Homo sapiens: one gene and its partner. The protein of the gene in region 1 interacts with the protein of each later gene in a pairwise test. Each region holds a gene or a part of one and is shown in the gene's direction. Other genes may lie near its edges.

Evidence for each region.
Region 2: the proteins of JADE3 (region 1) and SASH1 interact in a two-hybrid assay, tested with the Homo sapiens proteins (one large-scale study listed by BioGRID).

The regions. Positions count from the first base shown.
Region 1 is NC_000023.11:47,058,466-47,061,951, forward strand, and holds the end of JADE3 (protein Jade-3), read left to right. Parts: coding exon 1-612; 3' UTR 613-2,777; downstream 2,778-3,486. UniProt on the Homo sapiens protein: Scaffold subunit of some HBO1 complexes, which have a histone H4 acetyltransferase activity.
Region 2 is NC_000006.12:148,545,096-148,548,920, forward strand, and holds part of SASH1 (SAM and SH3 domain-containing protein 1), read left to right. Parts: intron 1-919; coding exon 920-1,051; intron 1,052-3,199; coding exon 3,200-3,463; 3' UTR 3,464-3,825. UniProt on the Homo sapiens protein: Is a positive regulator of NF-kappa-B signaling downstream of TLR4 activation. It acts as a scaffold molecule to assemble a molecular complex that includes TRAF6, MAP3K7, CHUK and IKBKB, thereby facilitating NF-kappa-B signaling activation.

The DNA.
Region 1 (3,486 bases):
CCTGCTTGGAGAACCCCGTCCTCGGAGTGCTATCATGGGCAGTCACTGGGAAAGCCTCTGGTCCTTCAGGCTGCCCTCCATGGACAGTCTTCCATTGGGAATGGGAAAAGTCAGCCTAACTCCAAGTTTGCCAAATCCAATGGCCTGGAGGGCAGCTGGTCTGGGAATGTCACCCAAAAAGACAGCTCGAGTGAGATGTTCTGTGACCAGGAGCCTGTGTTCAGCCCCCACTTGGTCAGTCAGGGCAGCTTTAGAAAATCCACTGTAGAACACTTTAGTAGGTCCTTTAAAGAGACCACCAATAGGTGGGTGAAGAACACAGAGGACCTCCAGTGCTATGTGAAGCCAACCAAGAATATGAGCCCCAAGGAGCAGTTCTGGGGTAGACAGGTTCTCAGGCGGTCTGCAGGGAGAGCTCCATATCAGGAAAATGATGGCTATTGCCCAGATTTGGAGCTGAGTGATTCAGAGGCAGAAAGTGATGGGAATAAAGAAAAAGTCAGGGTAAGGAAAGATAGCTCAGACAGGGAAAATCCTCCCCATGACTCTAGACGGGATTGCCATGGTAAAAGCAAGACACATCCCCTTTCCCACAGTTCAATGCAAAGGTGATTAGAAACTTCCAAGGATGACCCAACCTTTGCCTTTGCCCCATATATTGGGGAAAACCCATACACCAAAAGGATTTTAGCATATGTTAAGAGGAATTGCAGTGAAAAGGATAACATTTTTCCATAGTAAATTGTCTTGCAGTTTTTGAAAATGTTTCAAGTCTAGTTTTTACAAGCACATTACAGTAATTGCAGGTTGTCCAGAGGTTGGTTTGTCAGAGGCTATTGGGAACAGCTGGGCCCAGGGTATTTGCTCAGTAAATATTTTGGGGCAGCTTTCCGGTTATATAACACATTGACAAGTATATGTATTAAGAGTCCTTGCATTGTTAACTGATTTGCAAGAGACCATGATTATCAGACACTAAAACTACTTATCTTTTGAAGCTACAGCATGTGACTCCCCAGAGCTCCTGTCTGTAGGAAGTTTCTAATTCCACTGGTATCTATAAACCCTTTTCAGGGGAGAGACCAGGAGACCACCATCTTAGATACTGTCAAACTCACTACTGTCTTCCTTTGTTCTGCACAAGGTTGAGTTTCTTTCACAGTATCTTAACTTACTGAGTCAATACTCCTCATGCTTATCAGTGTCCAGTGCCTGTTCCTAAACTTGCTTGTTGGGGACACACTCATAACTATTTCACCTGACTGACAAGCATAAAAGGCTAACTTGTGGATAGTGTTTACAAAAGTACAAAAGTACTACTTCCAAGGAAAATGCTCTGATTCTCTGTTTAGGCATTTGTGAAGGATTCCAGAGCCTTTCCCAAAGTGAGACCATTTCTGGGGTATTTGTACCAGGTCAGGGTTTTTGTGTTGTTTTCAAATAAGTTTGACTAAAATAAGTTTGGCTGACAGTTTTTGTATACCTGCTTTAATGTTTATAAAATTTTTATTGAGGTATAATTAAAATATAGTAAAATGCACAGAGGTTAAGTATTCTTACCTGCTTTAATTTTGAAACAGATTTTTATTGTCAAACAGAATTTGAAAGCATGTGTTTAACACATGGATATAATTTAGCTTTGTGTCACCTTTGAATCTGAGGCAGTTTCCCAAACAAAAAGGCTGGAGCCATTTTTCAGAAGTTGCTTATACCCTGTTCCCAAACTATCAGCCTTGATTAATTTCTAGTAGGAAGAGAATAATTACATTTGCGGGGGGGGGGGTGGATAAAAACATGTCTGCTTCTCATTTAAATAAGAGAGAAATGATGCCGTTTTTTAAATGTGAAGCAGACTATAATTCTCAGCTCTCTTTTCTTCTTAGCCTTAAATTAATATTCTCTTTCTTCTAGTTTTGGAAAGTGTAGTGGGAATATTCAGACAAAAGAGGCCATTTTCCATTTTTAAAGCTTCTTACTGGTGAAACAGCCCAGTTGTAGTAGGTGCCAGTCAGTCAAGGCAGGGGCCCTCTCTCCGTCAATATGGAAAACTCAGCAGTTTTCCTCTCCCCCAGTTGTGTTCTTGTAACGTTGTTAATGGGTTCCTTTGCTTTTTGCTTTCTCCTTTTCTGAAAATGTATGTGTTTTGCCTCTCTTTTGGCTACATCTTCAAAATATTTCTTTTGTGCCTATGTACATGTGTAAACATGCCATAGCATGTGTGGTAGGTGTCCTGTATTTTGTTTGGGAAAAAAACTATCAAAATGAGGAAGAGAATTTCCCCTATTTATGCACTAGGTTTCTGTGCTTTTTCTTTGAGTTCTCTGGAGTAGATATTAATTTGATACCTTCATGGTAATGAAATTATGATGGAGCTGTGTTATAAATTCCTTATGTCAGAGGCCAGTGCGGTAGCCTTTGTCCCTTCATGCCTTTCAATTCTGAGTGGGAGGAAAAGCAAACATCAAAACAGTGCTTCAGCCAAATTCCATATGTAATGCCATTGGGAGAGTATTGACTAAAATATCATTCGTCAGGGAAATATAGTTGTAATATTTTTACAGGATATTCCTAGGTAAATGAAGGAGCCTTCAGTTGTAAATTTCAATTACCCCAAAATGTATTTGCTACATTTTGTTGTTTGAAGTATTACCTCTTAACCTTCTTTGTTAATTTTTTTCATTTTGTCTTATATAGTCCAGTTTTCCAAGATAAGCTCAGTCCTTTTTCAAATGTCCCCTTTTTACCAATACTTTTTCATTAAATTATGAAAACTGCTACCTACTGTCAGTGTGTTTTTTATTTTGGCATATTGGTTACACATGTTCCTTTTATATTTAAAAAATTATATTCACTGAACAAAACAGATAGTGTGGGGAGAGGGAGGAGGAAGAGGAGGAATTGAATGTTTAGAAGCACACATTCAACATTCGAGTCAATACCGGGGACCCAGGAGAACTCTGGATACTTGAACTTTACCCAGAAATCATGATTTTATCAGACTGTTAAGATAAAGGCCTTAGGATCATCATAAAACATCACCAGAGAGATAGATCCTATCTAAAGTGACAAGATTGAAAAGGCTTCAGTCAGGCATCTCTATTTGGAGTCTTGTGAGTATGTTGATGTCATGGGGTTATGTGGTGTCAAGGGGGGCTTTTAGGCATTATAAACATTTTCATGATTGAAAAATGTACTTGCCAAAGGTCATTGGGTAAATCAGTAGTGAAGATAGGTAAAAGGTGAAGTTGGTTCTCTCTCTCTCTCTCTCTCTTTCTCTCTCTCTCTGCTAGAGAACTGAAACTACAGGTATACCCTGTTATAGCCAACAAAAGCTATTGAGTTTATACTAATGTGTACATTTCCAATGGGAGATGAATCTTTGTCCTTGTGTTGAAGCAACTTTAAATTCAGAGGATAAGCCAAAGAATGCACAATCCTGGGTTATTTTCCTTCTAGGACTTTAAAATCCTCAGTATGCTTGCTGAC
Region 2 (3,825 bases), on another chromosome or scaffold:
GAACCCTATTCAGATGTGATAATTGTATTATACAGTTATCTGTATGGGTAATGGGAAAAAGATAATATAAAATCCCCCATTGTACCAAAAACATTTAGCTGTATAATGAAAAATTATTTCTCATTCAAAAAAAATGAGATCTACCAATACCAAGTGACTCCAAAGACAAAGCAATGCTAACAGATACAGCAGTACTTTACTCCTGGAAATACAGGTCCTATTAGGATGCATTCCTGAGAGTCCTTTATTATAAAATTCTCATGACAATGAATGCCTTAGAATCAGATCCTCCTCCACCTCTCTGACCCTCCTTGATATTTCCTGAGTGAATGTCTTTAAATGAAAGGTAGTGAGAAAGACCATACAGTAAATGCTGGCCTAGTGAGCTGGTGGTATCACTTGTAGCAGATAAAGTGCAAACAGTTGAATATCTGTAAAGCAGAAGTTAGCCCTTCTCTCCTGCAGTTTAGAAGACTCTCTTCAGTAACATTAGAGGAGTTGTATTTTGCAAAATGATCTGATTGAGGCGAAGGCATTGTCCTGAAAAATGTGGAATAATTGTGTTCTGCCTTAACTATGCTTCAGAACATTTTCCTAGAGCTCATCAGTACTTTAAGATAAAGATGTAAAAGTATTCCCTCTAAAGCATTCATCCTGACCAATAAAGAAAATATATTCATTTCAAATTCAAACTTTTGGGTTGGGTGTGGTGGCTTACGCCTGGAATCCCAACACTTTGGGAGGCCAAGGCGAGAAGATCGCTTGAGCCCAGGAGTTTGAGGCTGCAGTGAGCCATGATCACACCACTGCACTCCAGTCTAAGTGACAGTGAGACCCTACGTTATATGTGGTGTATCTTAGGGAAAGAAAAACAAAATCCTTATGACTCTTGATGTCATATTCCTGTTCTCCCTGGCAGCATGGCCGCTGTGGGATTCCTGAAGCCCTGGTGCAGAGATACGCAGAGGACTTGGATCAGCCCGAGCGGGACGTCGCCGCCAACATGGACCAGATCCGGGTGAAGCAGCTTCGGAAGCAGCACCGCATGGCGGTGAGCAGCCCACAGTTCTCCAGCTTCCTGAGGCACATTTAGTGATCACGCTTAGTGATGACCATACTAACAACTGCCAAGTAGGCAAGGGCTTGCGTAGCTATGGAAAGGAGACAGCTGGGGAGAAAGTAATATGTGGTCAGCCTAGAAATGTTTAAAAATACACTTTCAGAAAGAAAAAAAAAATGAAAATTATCCGTAATCCCAACACTGTGAAAAACTTTTTAAAGATCCGTCTAGTGCTGGGCGTGATAGTGCACACCTGTAATCCTAGTTACTTGGGAGGCAGAAGCAGGAGGATTGCTTGAGCCCAGAATTTTGATGCCGGCCTGGGCAACATAGTGAGACCCCATCTCTTAAGAAATAAAATAAAATCCGTCTGAATGACACAGTTTCAGTTAGAAGCATAACTTCCAAAGATCTATTGTTCAACATGGTGACTACAGTTAATAACAATGTATACTTGAAAATTGCTAGGACAGCAGATCTTAAGTGTTCTCACCACAAAATATAGTATATGAGGTAATGCATATGTCAAATAGCTTGATTTAGCCATTCCACAATGTGTACATTTATCAACACACCACGTTTTACACCATAAATACACACAATTTTTACTTGTCCATTAAAACTCTGTCTAGTCATTTCTCTGCACATGCGTAATGTATGCGTAAATGTATAGTACCGAAACCTGATTGTTGGCTATTATCAGATCATGAATCTGTTTCCCTGTTACTTAAAAAAAAAAAAATTGATATCATCAATACAGTAGTCTCCCCCTATCCATGAGGGATTATGGTCCAAGACCTCCAAGTGGATCTCTTGAAAGCTTGCTGAGTACCAAACCCTGTATATATTATACACAAATTTCTTTTTCCTTCACAATTTCATGGATAGAAGATTCGTTTTCACTGTAGGTCTTAGGAACCTCAGCATACAATTTTTTTTCTTTTCTTATTAAGTCAAGAACTCTCACCTTTTTACTTAAAGGAAGCACTTAAGGGCTTCTCTTTGCCACGTGCGAATGGCCAGCATCGTTACTCTTGCACTTGGGGGCCATTGTAAGGTCAAATAAGAGTGACTTGAATGCAAGTACTGCATTACCGCAACAGTTGATCTGATGACTACGGGCTACTAAGTGACTGCGGGGCTGGTGGTGTAGGCAGCGTGGATTTGTTAGACAAAGGGATGATTGTCAGGTGGGACAGAGCTGGGTGGTGTGAGATTTCTTCAGACTACTCAGAATGGCATGCAATATAAGACTTATGAATTGTTTATTTCTGGAAATTCCCATTTAATATTTTCAGGCTGTAGAAAGCAAAACCATGGATAAGCAGGGGGGTGGCTATTGTATTTCAAAGTATTCTAGTAGGTCAGTGTACTCTAGTAGTGAGTCTCATAGTTAAAACATTTAGATTTTTCTAACCTTTTATTTTAAATAATGTAATGAAGAACATCCTTGTTAATAAATCTTTGTAGACTTTAAAGGTTAATTTCTGAGTAGATATTCCTGGAAGATGGTTTGCTTCATCAAAATTGTATAAAATCCCAAAGATTTTCATACTCGTTAGCAAATCACCTTTCTGAAAGGTGCAGGCCCTTTATATACCCAGTAGTCAAGGTTAAATGTCCACTTCCCTGTTCCAGCCAACCCTTGATATTATTGTATTTTAAATTCTTCATAACTTGTATTGACTAAACATGTAATTTTCTGGTTGTTAACATAGATTCAAAATACAGTGGAAAGTCTCCTTTATAAAAACCCTACCCACTGAATGCTACATTTCACACGATCACCCAGATTTGTCCCTTCAGACTACCTTAGGGCTCTTTGTCAAGAGCATATCCACAGTGAAACAAAATAGCAGAATATGTAAATGCTTATAGTTTGAAGACTCGGACACATAAATGGGATTTGACCTCATTCCAACACCTTCGAGAACCTTGTGGAACTCTTCCTTAAAGATTTGTTTCATCTTAGAGAAGAATTTTTCCTGCTAGTCTTGATCTCTGACACTCATTGCATTGTCGCTTTCTGATAATAGTCTAGCAATGCAGTATTTCAGTGCTGTTCCTTTTAGACATACGCGAAGTAGTCCTCGATGACACATGGAGCGTTTCTATCATATTCTTTCTTAATTTATCCAGATTCCAAGTGGTGGACTCACGGAAATCTGCCGAAAGCCCGTCTCTCCTGGGTGCATTTCGTCTGTGTCAGATTGGCTCATTTCCATCGGTCTGCCCATGTACGCCGGCACCCTCTCCACCGCGGGCTTCAGCACACTGAGCCAAGTGCCTTCTCTGTCTCACACTTGCCTTCAGGAGGCCGGCATCACAGAGGAGAGACACATAAGAAAGCTCCTATCTGCAGCCAGACTCTTCAAACTGCCGCCAGGCCCTGAGGCCATGTAGCCAGGCCCGGAATGGGCCTCTCTGGACAAGAGCCACCCTTTCACTGTGCATATGATGCTGATGCAATTCCTCCATCATCTCTGGACGTGCAGACCAGATCCAGAAGAAAGGCCTGGCGTGTGGCCAAACAGCGTGAAACCTTGGCACAGGACTGAGGATCCTCTCCTCCAGAAAAGCCCCCTCGAGGAAATAAATTAGTGCGGTTCTCTTTGACCCCCAAAGACAAGACAAGCACTTATTTTTATTTTCAGAAGACAAAAGAACCAAGATGCCAACTGGCTGCGAATGCTCTATCTCCAGTCTGTCTCTGTGTACTGGTAGAGGCTGGGAGGAGTAGGGGGCAGCCTGTTCCATTTCTGATA